Linked DNA regions of Homo sapiens: regions 1 and 2 are each linked to region 3. Evidence: fine-mapped expression QTL. A gene starts in region 3. Each other region holds a variant in brackets. All regions are shown on one strand. Distances are from middle to middle.

Region 1 (6,282 bases), 33 kb after region 3:
TACAGGCGTGAGCCAGCGCCTGGCCGTGATATTCATCTTTAATGTTAAGAAGGGCCATTGGGTGGAAGAGGATTTAGCTTCATTCTGTGTGGAGACAGAGGAGGGGTCTGGCACTACTGGTAGAAGCTGGGAGGAAGACGCTGTTGGCTTAGTAAAAGGAAGAGCTATAGATCACTTTATTTTATTTTATTTTTTGAGATGGAGTCTCACTGTGTCACCCAGGCTGGAGTGCAGTGGCGTGATCTTGGCTCACTGCAATTTCTGCCTCCCGGGTTCAAATGATTCTCCTACCTCTGCCTCCAAGTAGCTGGGATTACAGGCATGCGCCACCACACTCAGCTAATATTTATATTTTTAGTAGAGACGGGGTTTCGCCATGGTGGCCAGACTGGTCTCAAACTCCTGGCCTCAAGTGATCTGCCCGCCTCAGTCTCTCAAGGTGCTGGGATTACAGGCGCGAACCACCGCGCCTGGCTCTATAGATCACTTTTAAAATGGAATGACGCCGGGCATGGTGGTTCACGCCTGTAATCATAAGTTTTGTGTGTTACATTGTGTGTATTTAAAGGTAATAGTGCTTACAGAATTGTGGGTTTAATGTTCTTTTTCAGGAAATGTTTCATTTAGGTGTCTAAACTAAACCTGAGCATCTGATCCAGAGTGGGCCTGCAAGCTTTGTTCTGTTCTGGATCCACCTGGTCTGGTGCTTTCTGGCTTTTAGTTCTAGCGCTGATGCTGGGCCTTACCACTAGAACTAGTCTCCTACTCCCGGGGACCGTATGTAGGCTGGGTTTGATGATCCATTCAGGAACATCTTTTTAGATGGTTATAGGAGTGACTTCTCTTTTTTTTTTTTGAGATGGAGTCTTGCTCTGTCACCAGGCTGGAGTGCAGTGGTGTGATCTTGGCTCACTGCATCCTCCGCCTCCTGGGTTCAAGTGATTCTCCTGCCTCAGCCTCCCAAGTAGATGGGACTACAGGCACACACCACCATGCCCAGCTAATTTTTGTATTTTTAGTAGAGACAGGGTTTCACCATGTTGGCCAGGATGGTCTCGATCTCTTGACCTCGTGATCTGTCCACCTCGGCCTCCCAAAGTGCTGGGATTACAGGCGTGAGCCACTGCACCCGGCCACGAGTGACTTCTTTGCAGATTCTTTTTTTCTCCCCCTGGGGTCAAAGCAGGAGTGCTGCTGCACCGAGTCAAGGGTCAAAGGTGATTTCAGGTTATCCTCTTATAGACTTGGCCCAGTGTTGGGTGGGGATTGAATTGCCCCTAGAGGTAGAAGGGGAGGGCATCTCTGCCCTTGAGGTTAACTTGCAGTTGCCTCCATATTATCCTAACCCCATGGTCCCCTCCTGTCCTTGGCCCTGAAGCAGGAGGTTGGGCTCCACTTCAAGAGCAGTGCACTTAGCTGGGCTCTGGGGCCAGTGGTCAGCTGTATCCGCTGAGGTGGGGACAAAAAGCCCTGTCAGCACTGCTGCCTGCCATACCCATTTCCTGCTCCCACAGTCAAGAGGCCCTGGAGGAAGCTAGGCTTTGAGGAAGAGGAGGGCTAGCTCTCTTCAGGCAGTTCCCTCTGCTCCCTGGTTTCTTTCTGTAGGATTCCCTTCCTCATTCAAACTGAGCCTTCTGTGCTCAGTACAGAGAGCAGATCAGGGCTAGAAGGTGGGTCAGAGAAATCAGGCTCAGGAGTGGGGGAGGTGGGATACTGGTGGACAAAGAGAGGGATACAAATGGATGGATAGAGAAGTAGAGAAGAGACTGGGCACGCCACGCCGGTGACTCACACCTGTAATCCCAGCACTTTGGGAGGCTGAGGCAGGCGGATCACCTGAGGTCAGGAGTTTGAGACTAGTCTGGCTAACATGGCGAAACCCTGTCTCTACTAAAAATACAAAAATTAGCTGGGCATGGTGTTGAATGTCTGTAATTCTAGCTACTCGGGAGGCTGAGGCAGGAGAACCGCTTGAACCCAGGAGGCGGAGGTTGCAGTGAGCTGAGATCGCACCACTGTACTCCAGCCTGGGGGACGGAGCAAGACTGTCTCGAAAAAAAAAAAAAAAGAAGTAGAGAAGCAATAGGGATTAAAATGTAAACAAGCCACCCAGGTGCCATGGCTCTTCCCTATAATCCCAGTTACTCCTCAGATAGCTGAGGTGGAAGGATTGCCTGAGGCCAGGAGTTCGAGACCAGCCTGGGCCACATAGCAAGACCCCGTCTCTAAAAAAATTAAAACAGCCAGGCACGGTGGCTCACACCTGTAATCCCAGCACTTTGGGAGGCTGAGGAGGGCAGATCACAAGGTCAGGAGTTCGAGACCAGCCTGACCAACATGGTGAAACCCTGTCTCTACTAAAAATACAAAAATTAGCCAGGTGTGGTGGTGGGCACTTGTAGTCCTAGCTACTCAAGAGGCTGAGGCAGGAGAACTGCTTGAACCCTGGAGGCAGAGGTTGCAGTGAGCTGAGATCGCACCACTGCACTCCAGGCTGGGTGACAGCAAGACTCCATCTCAAAAAAAAAAAAAATTAAAACAAATTAGCTGGGCATGGTGGTGCACACCTTTGATCCCAGCTACTAGGGTGGCTGAGCTGGGAGGATCCCTTGAGCTCAGGAGTTCGATGCTGCAGTGAGCTATGATTTCTCCACTGTACTCTGGCTTGGGTGAAAGAGTGAGATCCCCATCTCCAAAAAAAAAACAAAAAGGGACGGGTGTGGTGGCTCACGCCTGTAATCTCAGCATTTTGGGAGGCCGAGGTGGGCGGATCACCTGAGCTCAGGAGTTCGAGATTAGCCTGGCCAGTATGGTGAAACCCCATCTCTACTAAAAATACAAAAATTAGCCAGGCATGGTGGCACACACCTGTAGTCCCAGCTACTCGGGAGGCTGAGGCAGGAGAATTGCTTGAACCTGGGAAGTGGGGGTTGCAGTGAGCCAAGATCATGCCATTGCACTTCAGCCTGGGTGACAGAGCAAGACTGTGTCTCAAAAAATAAATAAAATAAATAAATAAATAAATAAATAAGTCAATAAATAAGTAAATAAAAAAAAATAATAAAATATAGGCCGGGCGCGGTGGCTCATGCTTGTAATCCCAGCACTTTGGGAGGCTGAGGTGGGTGGATCACCTCAGGTCAGGAGTTTGCGACAAGCCTGGCCAACATGGTGAAACCTCATCTCTACTAAAAATATAAAAATTAGCTGGGCATAGTGGCGCACACCTGTAATCCCAGCTACTTGGGAGGTTGAGGCAGGAGAATGGCTTGAACCCGGGAGGCAGATGTTGCCATGAGCCGAGACCACGCCATTGCACTCCAGCCTGGGCAACAAGGGTGAAACTCTGTCTCAAAAAGAAAAAGAAAAATAAATAAAATAAAATATAAACAAGCCATGTATTTCCATTTCAGAATCTGCTGTGGTAGCAGGTGGTGAATTGGTTGCTTATCCCTCCTTTTCCCTGCCTACATCCCTGGACAGAACTGAGAAGAACCTTGTGGCACACAGCTCAGACTCTGAGTCTGAACTAGAG[C/G]TAGTCCTGTAAGCTTATTCCAGTTTGGTGTTATGACTCATGGTTACCCTGCAGGGAATCATAAATTTGTATTTGGGGATCCCATTTTCCTGACAATGTGGCAGCATCCTTTGTGTCTGGTGTTTCTACTTGGAAACCTGGCTATGTTGTGGTTATGAGCCAGCCGCAGAGCCTAGGATAAGGGCAGAGGTTACAAGCTGGGGAGAAGGGGCACTAAGCTGTTGAGTGGCTGGAGGCTGGAGTCCAGTGGGGAGTAAAGGATGGGTGACTGGCTGAGGAGGAGTGACAGATTTGAAAGATTTGTGGAGGGCAAGATACAGCCACTTTGGTCATTTTGTGGGGTGCTGCACACTTGTGTCTTAAATTATTAACTTAGCACTGGGGTGGCCTGGAGCTGTGGGTACATTTTTGCCCAGCCCTGTGATAAGGTTTGTTGTTTATTAGGCAGAAAGGCAAGCATTTATATAGGACAGGAATGTGCCTTCTCAGGAAGAGCAGAAAGGAACTTGGGCAGTCAGTAGAATGAGGGTGGTGGTGGAAGGGAGGGTGAGAGAGAGAAGATGGGGCAGCTGTTCTGAGAGGCCAGACTTCCCTGCTTCTCAGGATGAAGTAGCCAGAATGTGGTGAGGCCAGGACACCACAAAATAGGAGGACTAGCGACACCAAGGCCACACCACTGCCAGGAGAACTCAGAGGGTGTTTCTGACTGTGTTGGTGGCCTGAAGTAGGCAAGAACTGTACTAGGCCTCATTCTCTTGACTGGTAAGGCAGGGTGATGTTGACCTTGCCCTTGGAGCCCTTGGGAGAAGGGCTTTAAAGTTAAGCCCTCCTTATAGTGTTCCAGTTGCTGAGCTGGGAAGGAGGGAGCAATGAAGCGATTCGCTATGCTACCAGTGGGAAGATCTGTATTTTTTTTTCCAACTTTCTTCTCGGCCACATTCTGGGGCTACTGGTCAACCTCACAGCATGCGTGAGCCTCCCTTGTTGAACTTCTTCAAGTAATTCAAATTCAAGTCGTAGATTGTAACTTTTTTGTTGGGGGAGGGATAATGGACTTGAGATTCTGATAAAAGCTATGATCCCTTTCTAAGAAAAGATATGAAACTTTTTCTTAGGTATGTCTGTATTCATATGGACATAACACTTTGAAAGAGAATTTCGAGCCTCATGGAGGCCCTAGTTAAGAACCCTGATAAAAGGTACTTTTAAAACCTGTACTTCTGAGTAGAAGGACTGGGGGAATGTGTGTGGCTCTTACTTCTCTATTGTCCCATCAGGAAAAATGCCCTGTCCCCATTCTACAGGAACCACTCTTAGCTGCAAGAATCTTTCCAAGCACAAAAGCAGGCAGCTGAGCTGCCAGGCAGTGGGCAGGAAGTCTGGCCTTCATCCTAATCCTTGGCCACACAGCCTGACCTGCTGGCTCAGCATTGGATAAGTCACAGCAGAACTCCTCAAGGTTAACAGTAATACCACAGAGTCAGAGTGCTGTGTCCTGGAGCCCATGGGGAATGGGAGGTAGGAGGGAGAGACCATGACTTTTCAGAGCCAAGAGCCGGAACAATCACTAATCCTGTACAGTTCCCAGTTGCCTCCCACTGCTGTGATTGGACATTTGGATGTATTTTTTATGTAAGCAGATCTGCAGTCACTTTGTTTTGTGTCTCCCATATAAGGTGCTGGGGGTGGGGAGTATAGAGGCCTTTGTATGATAATGGTGAGGACATTCTGGGGCCCCGAGGGTTCCAGTGCAGAGCAGGTCAGAGGGTCTGTCTTTGGCTGAAGGGTATATATATCTTGGTGACTGGTACTGGAAAAATTGCTTGGGAGTCTAAGGCCCTAGGGTGGTAAGGGTAAGTCACCAATCAGTATTATTTTTCTTTCAGGTCTCTTAACCTTCATTAACTGTGCCTATGTCAAATGGGGAACCCTGGTACAAGATATTTTCACCTATGCTAAAGTATTGGCACTGATCGCGGTCATCGTTGCAGGCATTGTTAGACTTGGCCAGGGTAAGAAATAATATTAGTAGCAACTAATCTTTTTTAAGCATTTTCTGTGAGCCGCACTCCTCTAAGTGCTCTTTGTGCATTATCTCATTTCTTACTATAACCTTATTCGGTGGGCACTATTATTATTCTCATTTTATGGATGAGGAAACAGCCTGCAGAATTAAGTACCTTGGGCCGGGCGCAGTGGCTCGTGCTTGTAATCCCAGCACTTTGGGAGGCCATCGCGGGTGGATCCATGAGGTCAGGAGTTCAAGATCAGCCTGGCCAAGATGGTGAAACCCCATCTCGACTAAAAATACAAAAATTAGCCGGGCATGGTGGCAGGCGCCTGTAATCCCAGCTACTCGGGAGGCTGAGGCAGGAGAATCGCTTGAATCCAGGAGGCGGTGGTTGCAGTGAGCTGAGATCACGCCACTGCACTCCAGCCTGGGCGACAGAGCGAGACTCTGTCCCCCCCCCAAAAAAAAAAAAGAATTAAATATCTTGCCCAAGTTGCTACCGGTAAGTAGAGGAGTTGAAATTTGTATCCAGGACAACTGACCCAAAAGTCTGTCCTTTAACTTCCATGCACGCTGCCTCCCAGAGGAGGCTGATCTTGGCAAAGGGTTGACAGCCATGCCCTGGGAGCTGCCTTTGGCAGATTGTGATAGGAGGCAGGAATCAGGCAGCCTGCAGAGCAGAACAGAACTGCATTGTTTCTATTCTCCAGCTTTTCTGCTCTATGGTGGTTTCTTA
Region 2 (6,282 bases), 25 kb after region 3:
GAGGTTAGAAGCAAGATGGAGTCAGTTAAGTTAGATCTCTTTCACTGTCTCAGTCAAAATTTTGCAATTACAGAGGCTCTCACCCATGACACCTGAGTAAGCGAATTGGTTGTTTCTTTAAAATTTTTATTTTAATTGGCTGGGCGTGGTGGTTTACGCCTGTAATCCCAGCACTTTGGGAAGCCGAGGCGGGCGGATTACGAGGTCAGGAGATCGAGACCATCCTGGCTAACACGGTGAAACCCTGTCTCTACTAAAGAATACAAAAAATTAGCTGGGCTTGGTGGCGGGCGCCTGTAGTCTCAGCTACTTGGGAGGCTGAGGCAGGAGAACGGCATGAACCCGGGAGGCGGAGGTTGCAGTGAGCCAAGATCGCACCACTGCACTCCAGCCTGGGCGACAGAGCGAGACTCTGTCTTTAAAAAAAAAAAAAAGATATTTTTCTTTTCTTTTCCTTTCTCTCTCTCTCTCTCTCTCTCTCTCTCTTTCTTTCTTTGAGACGGGGCCTCACACTATCATCCAGGCTGGAGTGCAGTGGTGCAATCTCGGCTCACTGCAACCTCCGCCTCCTGGGTTCAAAATGATTCTCCTCTCTCAGACTCCCAGGTAGCTAGGATTACAGGCGTGCGCCACCACGGCTGGCTAATTTTTGTATTTTTAGTAGAGACGGGGTTTTGCCATGTTGGTCAGGCTGGTCATGAACGCTTGACCTCAGGTGATCCGCCCACTTCGGCTTCCCAAAATGCTGGGATTACAGGTGTGAGCCACCACCACGCCTGGTCAAAAATGTTATTTTATTTTCTGAGACGAAGTCTTGCTTTGTTGCCCAGGCTGGTGTGCAGTAGCATGGTTATGGGCTCAATCCTGCACTCAAGTGACCTTCCCACCTCAGCCTTCCAAGTAGCTAGGACCATCAGTGTGCACCACCAAGTCCAGCTAATTTGTAATTTTTTTGTAGAGAAAGGGTCTTGCTATGCTGCCCAGGCTGGTCTCCAACTCCTGGCCTCAAGTGATCCTCACGTCTTGGCCTTCCAAAGTGCTGGGATTATAGGCATGAGCCACTGCACCTGGAGTAAAAGGTTTCTGTAGTCTGAAAGGTAAAATAATTTGAAGGCCATCTGCTATCTGAGAGAAATAACAGCACCTAGGGAGAGTGGAAGAAATAATGTATCAAAGAAGCCAGGGTGAAATTGTGATTTCAAGGTGTAGAGAGTTTCCAGGCCGGGCGCGGTGGCTCAAGCCTGTAATCCCAGCACTTTGGGAGGCCAAGGCGGGTGGATCACGGGGTCAGGAAATTGAGACCATCCTGGCTAACATGGTGAAACCCCGTCTGTACTAAGAGTACAAAAAAATTAGCCGGACGTGGTGGCGGACGCCCGTAGTCCCAGCTACTCGGGAGGCTGAGGCAGGAGAATGGCGTGAACCCAGGAGGCGGAGCTTGCAGTGAGCCGAGATGGCGCCACTGCACTCCAGCCTGGGCGACAGAGCGAGACTCCATCTCAATTAAAAAAAAAAAAAAAAAGGTGTAGAGATTTTCCCAAACCAACATTAGACAAAACAAATGGGGATGCAGCAAAGAAAAGGAAGAAGAGACTTGAAATCTCTGGGTTTAGGTAACAGATATGAGGCGTTTCCAGAGAGCTTATATCTGGACCTTCTGAGGAAACAGCAGTGGTAGAGTATTTTGGAGACACCAGGGTATTAGCAGGCCTGAGTATGCCAGTTGTGGGGTTTGGCCTTCCCCCAGGAATAGTGTGCATCTGACTATACACAGACCCAGCCTAACCTAGAAATGTGCAGTTTTTCTGAGCAACATGTGACCAAGAGCTTGCTCACACCAATTAAGCCTAGGGACTGCTATCCTTCTGCTAATTGCTGTGGGATGAATGATGTCACCAGTCAGAAGATAGCTGAGATGTCTCACTGGTGACGTGAAGTTTAAAGTAGCAAACTGAGTGGCAGGTGGAATTTTCGTCTCTTTGTCAGCTGAAGGCTGTGTATGTGAAAGAAAAAAGAACACAGAACAGAGTTCCTAACCGTAAATTCTAAGATTCTAAGATACCAGAAAGATAAACTCCTGGTAAGGGATAGAGGAGGTTTATAGGGATTGGGAGAGATGTGTATAATAAGGCTTTAGAATGGAAATTTTAGAGGCAAGGAGAAAAATGCCTAGATAAAAGTATAAATCTGGGTATTTTGGAGACTACATAGCAGAGAATAAAGGCAGAGAGGAGTTGCTCAGTAACGCATTTGGAGAAAATGGGATGGAAGATCAGAAATGATGCTTTTGAACTCTTATCTACAAATATTACAAGTAAGGCTAATAAACGTATTTGACCTTTTTTTTTTTTTTTTGTGAGACGGAGTCTCGCTCTGTCACCAGGCTGGAGTGCAGTGGCGCGATCTTAGCTCACTGCAACCTCCGCCTCCTGGGCTCAAGTGATTCTCCTGCCTCAGCCTCCCCAGTAGCTGGGACTACAGGCGCACACCACCACACCCAGCTAATTTTTGTATTTTTAGTAGAGACGGGGTTTCACCATGTTGGCCAGGATGGTCTCAATCTCTTGAACTCGTGATTCGTCTGCCTCCGCCTCCCAAAGTGCTGGGATTACAGGCATGAGCCACTGTGCCCGGCCCGTATTTGACCTTTTACTGAAAGGAGGAAACAATTTCATAGGCATCAGCGATATTTGATTAGAATATGATAATGAAAGAGTATACTTTGTTCAAAAATGATGATTTGCTAGAAGAGCTGGGATTCATGTAGTACATTAAAGAGAGAGGTACATACTTGTTTGAGGATCTGCTATCATAAGGGATGCCTGCCTTCTTTGCATAAGGTCACATTTAGATTCTTTTGATT[G/A]CAGTGAGAGGGAAATTTCAGTACACCAAGATCCAGTGAGCTGTCAAGGGTTTCACTTCCCCTTTCTCCATTTTTCAACAAATGTAATGAATAGTACCACCCAGTGCTACTTCCAGTTTTCTGCCTGCAGTTAGGTTTTTTTTTTTTTTTTTTTTTTTTTTTTGAGACAGTCTTGCTCTGTCACCCAGGCTGGAATGCAGTGGTGCAATCAAGGATCACTGCAGCCTTGACCTCCCCAGGCTCAAGCAATTCTCCCACCTTAGCCTCCTGAGTAGTTGAGACTACAGGTGCACGCCACCAGGCCCAGCTAATTTTTGTATTTTTTGTAGAATCAGGGTTTCTCTATGTTGCCCAGGCTGGTTTCAAACTCCTGAGCTCAAGGGATCAGCCCACCCTGGCCTCCCAAAGTGCTGGAATTACAGGAGCGAGCCACTGTGCCCAGCCAACATATGAGTTTTCTATTGCTTCTCTAACAAGTTACCACCAATTGAGTGGCTGAAAACAACACAAATTTATCATCTCATAATTCTGGAGGTCAGAAGTCTGAAATGGGTCTCACTGGGCTAATATGAAGTAGCACTGTGTTTCTTTCTGGAGGCTTAAGGAGAGGATCCATCTTCTTGCCTTTCCCAGCTTCTAGAGTCTCATGGACCCTTCCATTTTCAAAGTCAGCAGTAACTGGGAGAGTCTTTCTCATATTGTACTACTCTGACATTGACCTTTCTGCCTCCCTCTTTCATCTTTAAGAACTTTTGTGATTACATTGGGCCCACCCAGAGAATACAGAATGATTTCCCTGTTTTGTCACTTGATTAGCAATCTTCATTCTGTCTGCAACTTTTTTCTTTTTTTTTTTTTTTTTTGAGCCAGAGTCTTGCTCTGTTGCCCAGGCTGAAGTGCAGTGGTGTGATCTTGGCTCACTGCAACCTCCGCCTCCTGGGTTCAAGCAATTCTCCTGCCTCAGCCTCCTGAGTAGCTGGGATTATAGGCACCCACCACCACACCCAGCTATTTTTTGTATTTTTAGTAGAGACGGGGTTTCACCGTGTTGGTTAGGCTGACTCATGTTGGTTAGAATTCCTGACCTCAGGTGATCTGCCCGCCTTGGCCTCCTAAAGTGCTGGGATTACAGGCATGAGCCACTGCGCCTGGCCTCTATCTGCAACTTTAATTCTCCCTTGCCATGCAATATAACATGGCTCACAGGTTCCAGGGATTAGGGGGTGGACATCTTTGGGGGGCCATTAGTCTACCTACCACAAGTGATAGCCCAGCTTTCCACCGGAGGTGGATGAGCAGCACTCTGAAGTGATAACTTAAGGTGGATTCTTGCCCAAATTCTAGGCTTGTAAGTTAAATCTGGTTAGTGAAGTACGAGCAGAAGGGTGGGAAATCATTAGTAACGTGTATGAATTCACTAAGAACAAGCCATACTCTGCTAACCTCACTTTTTGGTTCAATTTTAATTTTTTTATTCAAATATAATATACAGAAGGAACAGTGCAATCTCATAAGTTTATGGCTTAATGAATTGTCACTAGTTGAGCACATGTGTAACTAGCACCCTTGAGCCCTTCTTATGCTCTTCCCAGTCCCTGCCTCTCCACCCCACACAAAGGGAAATCACTATTCTGACTTCTAGTAGCATTGATTAGTTTTCTCTGATTTTATGTAAATGGATATAATCTATATGTACACTTTTGCATCTGGCTTGCTTATTATGTTTGAGATTCTTCTGTATTTTTGTCTGTAGTCGTAGATTGTTCACTTTTTTTTTTTTTTTTTCCCAGACAGAGTCTCACTCTGTCGCCCGGGCTGGAGTGCAGTGGTAGGATCTTGGCTCACTGCAACCTCCACCTCCCGGGTTCAAGCGATTCTCCTGCCTCAGCCTCCTGAGTAGCTGGGATGACAGGTGCCCGCCACCACGCCCAGCTAATTTTTGTATTTTTAGTAGAGACGGGGGTTTCACCATGTTGGCCAGGCTGATCTCAAACTCCTGACTTTGTGATCTGCCCGCCTTGGCCTCCCAACGTGCTAGGATTACAGATTGTTTATTCTTAGTGCTGTTTAGTATTTATTCAATCTACTGTTGCTGGGCATTTGGGTTGTTTCTAGTTTTTGACTACTGCAAGGGTGTAACTATGAATATTCTACATAAATATATACTAATTTGATTTGAATTGTTTGATAGCATCATTAGATTGTTAGAGCAGAGGCATGTGTATGCAGATTTCGGAGAGGTTCGTGGCAAATTCTCATGATATTCTTGTTGACAAGGTAGACTAGATAAAAATAAAGTTTGGTAGATTCTTAGTTGGCTGAATAACATTGTGGAATAATGACAAATACAGAAAGGTCTACAGTGATAGACTATACAGCTCTGTTGATCTTAGTCAACATTTTAATTTTTTTTTTTTTGAGACGAACTCTCGCTCTGTCACCCAGGCTGGAGTGCGGTGGCGCGATCTCGGCTCACTGCAACCGCCGCCTCCCGGGTTCACGCCATTCTCCTGCCTCAGCCTCCCGAGTAGCTGGGACTACAGGCACCCGCCACCACGCCCGGCTAACTTTTTGTATTTTTAGTAGAGATGGGGTTTCATTGTGTTAGCCAGGATGGTCTCGATCTCCTGACCTTGTGATCTGCCTGCCTCGGCCTCCCAAAGTGCTGGGATTACAGGCGTGAGCCACCGTGCCCGGCCTAACATTTTAATTTTTTTATTAAAAAAATTTTTTTTGAGACAGAGTGTTGCTCTGTCACCTAGGCTGGAGTGCAGTGGCACAATCTTGGCTCAGTGCAACCTCTGCCTCCTAGGCTCAAACAATTCCCATGTCTCAGCCTCCTGAGTAGCTGGGACCACAGGCGTGTGCCATCACACCCTGCTAATTTTTGCATTTTCCTTTTAGTAGAGATGGGGTTTTGCCATATTGCCAGGCTGGTCTCGAACTCCTGGCCTCAAGTGATCTGCCTGCCTCAGCCTCCCAAAGTGTTGGGATTACAGGCGTGAGCCACTGCTGCCAGCCCATGTCAACATTTATTTATTTATTTATTTATTTTGAGACGGAGTCTCACTCTGTCGCCCAGGCTGGAGTGTAGTGGTGTAATCTTGGCTCACTGCAACCTCCGCCTCCTGGGTTCAAGCGATTCTCCTGCCTCAGCCTCCCGAGTAGCTGGGACTACAGGTGCCCACCACCACACCCGGATAATTTTTGTTCTTTTAGTAGAGACGGGGTTTCACTATGTTGGCCAACCTGGTCTCAAACTCCTGACCTCAGGTGATCCTCCCTCCTCGGTCTCCCAAAGTACTGGTATTACAGGCGTGAGCCACTGCGCCCGGCCCTAGTCAACATTTTTAGGGTGACTTCAGTGAAGACTCAGGAGGTATGCTGATCAAATTTGCAGATTTCACAAAATTAAAGAA
Region 3 (6,282 bases):
TCCCTCCTTCCTTCCTTTCTTTTACGTCATATTAGGACACATGCCCACCCCTTGGTGCCAGTGAATTTGGTCTTAAAAGGGCAGGCGTGATGATGTGTTTGTGTTTTTTTTTTTGTTTGCTTTAGAAGTGGGCACCCTAGCAATAGCAGCACTGCCAAGAGGACTTGTAATCACCTCTTATCCCTGCAAAGAATGAGAAAGGGGAGGGGCAGCCAGGAAGGAGATTAACAAACTTTGTTGGAGCCTTTCGTCTAGGCTATAGACTGAAGGATGACAGAGGCTTTCTTTCTTTTTAATCTAGTCTGCTTACATCTTCCCCCAGGTAATTCATGTAGATAATTCCTGTCCAAAAGCAAGGTCTAAGGTGGCATCGGTGGCTCACGCCTGTAATCCCATCACTTTGGGAGGCAGAAGCAGGTGGATCAGTTGAGGCCAGGAGTTCAAGACCGGCCTGGCCAACATGGCAAAACCTCGTCTCTACTAGAAATACAAAAATTAGGCTGGGCACAATGGCTCATGCCTGTAATCCTAGCACTTTGGGAGGCCGAGGTGGGCGGATTGCCTGAGTTTAGGAGTTTAAGACCATCCTGGTCAATGTGGTGAAACCCCGACTCTACTAAAAACAAAAAAGATTAGCTGGGCGTGGTGGTGTGCACCTGTAATCCCAGCTACTCGGGAGGCTGAGGCAGGAGAATTGCTTGAACCCAGTAGGTGGAGGTTGCAGTGAGCCGAGATTGCACCACTGCACTCCAGCCTGGGCGACAGAGTAAGTGTCTGTCTCAAAATAAATAAAATAAAATAAAATAAAATAAAATAAAAATACCGAAATAAAAACACAAAAATTAGCCAGGTGTAATCCTAGTTACTCAGGAGGCTGATGCATGAGAATTGCTTGAACCAGGAGGTGGTGGAGGTTGCAGTGAGTCAAGATCGTGCCACTGCACTCCAGCCTGGGGGACAGAGTGAGACTCTGTCTCAAAAAAAGAAAATAAATAAAAAAAAAAAAAAATAAAAGGAAGGCCTAGAGACTAAGGCAGGCCAGGGGGATGGGGAGATGGAGAGATAGTATACTTGTGTGATTAAGAGTATATGAGCTCTGGAGGTTCCATGAGATAATGTGCTTAAGTCCTTAGCAGTGTGTCTGGCCCAGTAAGTGCTCAATAAGTGATAGCAATTATTATTACAGGAGCATTTTGGAGAAAAGGAGAGTCTCCTCCAGAAGGATTTCAGATCATTGTGAGCCTGTCTTGGGAGAAGCATGATCTCTGGGAACGCTCACACCAGAATCCTCCTCCTAGATTAAATTAAAAGTTTAAAGAGCTAGAATGGGAGGATGTATGGTAGAGATGTCTCCCAGAGATATTTAGATCTCTATTCTCTGGTTGTAGAATAACCAAAGAGGGTTAGAACAGATAGGAGAAGAAACAGACAGTTGGATTTCAGAATGGATAGGGTCTATTTCTGTTGGTAAAAGAGACTCAGAATACCAGATTTAAAGTAAATAATAAAGATAGCATAAACTATGTGATTTCCAAAAAGTGCTCAGCTTCCTCTGCCTGTTCTGGGCCTGTCTGTCCAACAGAATTCAGTGAAATCTGATTTCCTCATATTCTTTTTTAATTTTTTTTTTTTGAGATGGAGTCTTGCTGTGTTGCCCAGGCTGGAGTGCAGTGGCCTAATGTGGGTTCACTGCAAGCTCCGCCTCCCGGGTTCATGCCATTCTCCTCATTCTCCTGCCTCAGCCTCCCGAATAGCTGGGACTACAGGTGCCCGCCACCACGCCCGGCTAATTTTTATTTTTTTGTGTTTTTAGTAGAGACGGGGTTTCACCGTGTTAGCCAGGATGGTCTTGATCTCCTGACCTTGTGATCCGCCTGCCTCAGCCTCCCAAAGTGCTGGGATTACAGGCGTGAGCCACCGCGTCTGGCCTGATTTCCTCATATTTTTTAGGAAAGTGGAGTCAACTTATATTTGAGGAAGGCGTTTATAGGAATTTATGCTTATCCCAGAGATCTTGGTATGTTTTGTCAAGAATGAAAAGGCACGTGGGTCTGGTGGGGATGCAGTCAGATATTTGATCTCTTGACTGTGTTTCTTTTGAAGTAGTCTGAGGCTCAGACTTTGGGGCAGTGGCCCAGGCTTGGAGGCAACCCCCCAGTCTCTCTTTGCATGGGGAAGTGTGCAGAGTTCTCTTAGAACACCCAGTCACATGGTGTAGAGACTGCTCTTACACTTCCTGTAATCTCAGCATGGGAACAAGCCTTTGTGTCACACTGTGCAACCTTCCTCCCTTTCTTAAATGCTTGGGGTGAGAGAGAAGAGAGGCTAGGGTGGGGCATGGAGGACACAGAGAGAGAGAGTGCTGTGTATTCCTTCCCCGCTACTGTCCTGTCCTCAGCTAACTTGCTCTGGGACAGCTTCCCCAGGGCTACAGATACTGCACTCAGCTGACTGTCCTTTCTTCTGGGCCCCTGGTCCCAGAGCAGAGCTGACAAAGGAGATTCCTGAGAGAGCACCTTCTTATCACAGAAAGTGCTGAGCCAAGAGCTCCTAGCTGCCCCTTTTGCAGATGTGAAGGGCCAGTGAACCTTGGACCCAGATGGTTGCTTAATACTCCTTTCCCCCTCCCTCACTCCTTCCTTTGCGGGCTGCCTCACCTCCTCCACCCTTCTTGCTTAAATCCATAGGCATTTGTCTGGCCTTCCCTTTTACTGCTGGCTGGGAAGGAGGAGCATCAGACCACAGATCCTGGAAGGCACTTCTCTCCCTGACTGCTGCTCACACTGCCGTGAGAACCTGCTTATATCCAGGACCAAGGAGTGAGTGTGCGTTCCACCCTCTTCTCATCTCCACTTACCTTGCTAACCCTCCTCTTTGCTGCTGTGCAGTGTCTAATCGCTTCTTCTCCCGAGTGCCTCTCACCCTAACATCTCTCCATTGCTTGACTAGCCTCTCCCATTTTCCTCTCAGCTGTCTCCTGTTCGGTGTTTTCCAGCATGTGCTGCCTGGCTGCAGCTGTCTCCCTGCCTTGGCTCGGGGTGATATCTCTCCAGCAGCAACTCTGGGGTAGGGAGTGGCCATCAGCTGCCTCCAATCATCCCTAGGTTTTATGGTACATTGGATCGCCCTTCTCTCATTCATACTTTTTTGGGTGATTCAACGATGCTGATGTGAGGGATCGATAGCAGGAGGCTTAGAATACCAGAGAATGGGAAAGGAAAAGCAAGGAAAAGATAATAGCCTGTCTTCTTTCAGGGTGAAGTGGGTCTACTTGGGCTTTGCCAGGGCTGAAGACTCCAGCTAAGGGTTAAGGGATGCTCTTTGGGCAGGAGGATGGTTGTGGGTTTCCAGCAGGTTTCTGAAGCCTTTAGTTTTGGCAGACGTAGAGTCCTTGGGGAAAAGAGCAGTGTCATGAGACGCTCCCACAGATTAGCTGCTGGTAGGGTCAGTTCCTAATGTTGTACCTCAGCACAGGTGATCCCTGAAGCTGAAATTGGAGGGAAGACGGGTTTTGGATAAGGCTGAAAACTCGGGGTCAAGCCATTATAGTTATTTTCTGGGAGCCGCCACACTGCCCCCATGCCTGTCTTGTATTATAGCAGGCTCAGAGAGAACCAACATTTAGTGTTTTGTTTTTGATTTTGTTTTTTTTTTGAGACAGAGTTTTGCTCTTGTTGCCCAGGCTGGAGTGCAATGGCCCAGTCTTAGCTTACCGCAACCTCTGCCTCCCGGGCTCAAGTGATTCTCCTGCCTCAGCCTCCCAAGCAGCTGGGATTACAGGCATGTGCCACCACGCATGGCTAATTTTTGTATTTTTAGTAGAGACTGGGTTTCTAAATGTTGGTCAGGCTGGTCTCGAACTCCCGACTTTAGGTGATCTGCCCGCCTTGGCCTCCCAAAGTGCTGGGTTTACAGATGTGAGCCACAGCGCCCGGCCCAAGATTTAGTTCTCTATTTGGTGAGTCGGGTGGGCAGCAATGTCCTAATGATGAGAGACAGATCCTTTCTCTCTGGCGAATGAGTGCCTTCTCTTAAAAATTCAAGTTGGAGGCTGGGCAAGGTGGCTCACGCCTGTAATCCCAGCACTTTGGGAGGCCGAGGCGGGCGGATAACCTGAGGTCGGGAGTTTGAGACCATCCTGACCAACATGGAGAAACCCCATCTCTACTAAAAATACAAAATTAGCTGGGTGTGGTGGTGCATGCCTATAATCCCAGCTACTTGGGAGGCTGAGGCAGGAGAATCACTTGAACCCGGGAGGCGGAGGTTGCAGTGAGCTGAGATCGCGCCATTGCACTCCAGCCTGGGCAACAAGAGCAAAACTCCATCTCAAAAAAAAAAAAAAAAAATTAGCCACGCGTGGTGGCAGGTGCCTGTAATCCCAGCTACTTGGGAGGCTGAGGCAAGAGAAGCGCTTGAACCCGGGAGGCTGAGGTTGCAGTGAGCCGAGCCGAGATTGCACCACTGCACTCCAGCCTGGGCTACAGAGCGAGACTCTGTCAATAAATAAATAAATACATAGATAGATAGACAAATATTCAAGTTGGGGTTGTTTTGATGAGTGAGCTGGAGAAAAGGTTATTTGGAGGTCTCCGCATTGGTTGGTGAGCTGCCCGTATTACCCTGTGTTGGAGGCGGGTAGAGGTTCTATGTAATTGCCAACCACCTAATCTATAGCATCATCTTTCTTCCTTAAAGGGCAATGCCAGGAAGCTGGTGAAGGGTTTCCTCTCCTCCACCATGGTTGACAGCACTGAGTATGAAGTGGCCTCCCAGCCTGAGGTGGAAACCTCCCCTTTGGGTGATGGGGCCAGCCCAGGGCCGGAGCAGGTGAAGCTGAAGAAGGAGATCTCACTGCTTAACGGCGTGTGCCTGATTGTGGGGAACATGATCGGCTCGGGCATCTTTGTTTCCCCCAAGGGTGTGCTCATATACAGTGCCTCCTTTGGTCTCTCTCTGGTCATCTGGGCTGTCGGGGGCCTCTTCTCCGTCTTTGGGGCCCTTTGTTATGCGGAACTGGGCACCACCATTAAGAAATCTGGGGCCAGCTATGCCTATATCCTGGAGGCCTTTGGAGGATTCCTTGCTTTCATCAGACTCTGGACCTCCCTGCTCATCATTGAGCCCACCAGCCAGGCCATCATTGCCATCACCTTTGCCAACTACATGGTACAGCCTCTCTTCCCGAGCTGCTTCGCCCCTTATGCTGCCAGCCGCCTGCTGGCTGCTGCCTGCATTTGTAAGTGGGGCTGGGGTAGGAGGTGGTGGGTGGAGGGCTGGACAGAGGCTGGGATGTGAGTGCAGTCTGGGAGTAAGAAGGAGATAGAGAGGAATGTCTCTGACAACATATATATATATATATATAGTTAAAGTATGCTTTGTGTGAAAATTCAAACAGTACCACAGTGTATCGCAAAAACACTCACCTTTTCCCCAGCTTCTCACAGTAAGCACTATTAGCAGTTTGCATATTCTTCCTGATTTTTTTTTTTTTTTTTTAAAGAGACAGGTATTTTGCTCTGTCACCCAGACTGGAGTGCAGTGGTGTGATTATACCTTACTTCAGCCTCGAACTTCTAGGCTCAAGCTATCCTCCTGCCTCAGCCTCCTGAGTAGCAGGGACCACAGGCACACTGATTTTTTTTTCTTGTTCCTTCAAGAGATGTAGTTTTGGCAGGGTGTGGTGGCTTATGCCTGTAATCCCAGCACTTTGGGAGGCTGAAGTGGGCAGATCACCTGAGGTCAGGAGTTCGAGACTAGCCTGGCCAACATGGTGAAACCCCATCTCTACTAAAAATACAAAAATTAGCTGGGTGTGGTGGCAGGTGCCTGTAATCCCAGCTACTCAGGAGGCTGAGGCAGGAGAATCGCTTGAACCCAGGAGGCAGAGGTTGCGGTGAGCCAAGATCGCACCACTGCACTCCAGCCTGGGCAACAGAGTGAGACTCTATCTCAAAAAAATAAAAATAAAAAAAAAAGAGGTGTAGTTTTGTTCTTTTACAAAAATGAGGTCATACTAGTCTACATGTAATTCTACAGTGTGCTTTTCCTCTAGCATTATCAGTGACATTCTTTTCTACTTACAGATCTACTTTTTAAAAAATGCTTCATATTATTTCATGTGAATTTTAAGGATGCATAGTAGTTTATTTATCTAGCTGGTCCTCTGTTAATGGCCATGTACGTTGGTTTCAGTTTCTCAGTCTTACAGATAATGCTCCAGTGAATATCTTTTTGCAGCTGCATGAGTATTTCTGTAGGCTGGATTCTTCCTTTTTTTTT

What was found.
Region 1: its variant is fine-mapped to the expression of SLC7A7 in whole blood (INTERVAL, PIP above 0.99).
Region 2: its variant is fine-mapped to the expression of SLC7A7 in whole blood (TOPMed, PIP above 0.99). The same link has a PIP of 0.9 or more in blood mononuclear cells.

What each region holds. Positions count from the first base shown.
Region 1 is chr14:22,779,191-22,785,472 of GRCh38, reverse strand. SLC7A7 (solute carrier family 7 member 7) reads left to right here. Exons shown (of 10, transcript NM_003982.4): 3 at 5,422-5,547. Among named protein-coding and RNA genes, the nearest start is that of OXA1L, 16 kb to the right of the region's middle. RefSeq lists a silencer at 1,866-2,036. The variant C/G (reference allele first, on the strand shown) is at 3,536.
Region 2 is chr14:22,787,072-22,793,353 of GRCh38, reverse strand. The region is part of intron 2 of SLC7A7 (solute carrier family 7 member 7); the gene reads left to right. Among named protein-coding and RNA genes, the nearest start is that of OXA1L, 24 kb to the right of the region's middle. The variant G/A (reference allele first, on the strand shown) is at 2,864.
Region 3 is chr14:22,811,857-22,818,138 of GRCh38, reverse strand. It overlaps SLC7A7 (solute carrier family 7 member 7), which reads left to right and starts at 2,704. Exons shown (of 10, transcript NM_003982.4): 1 at 2,704-2,819; 2 at 4,699-5,239. The coding sequence starts at 4,741. RefSeq lists enhancers at 2,615-2,714, 2,903-3,409 and silencers at 4,717-4,776, 4,797-4,856.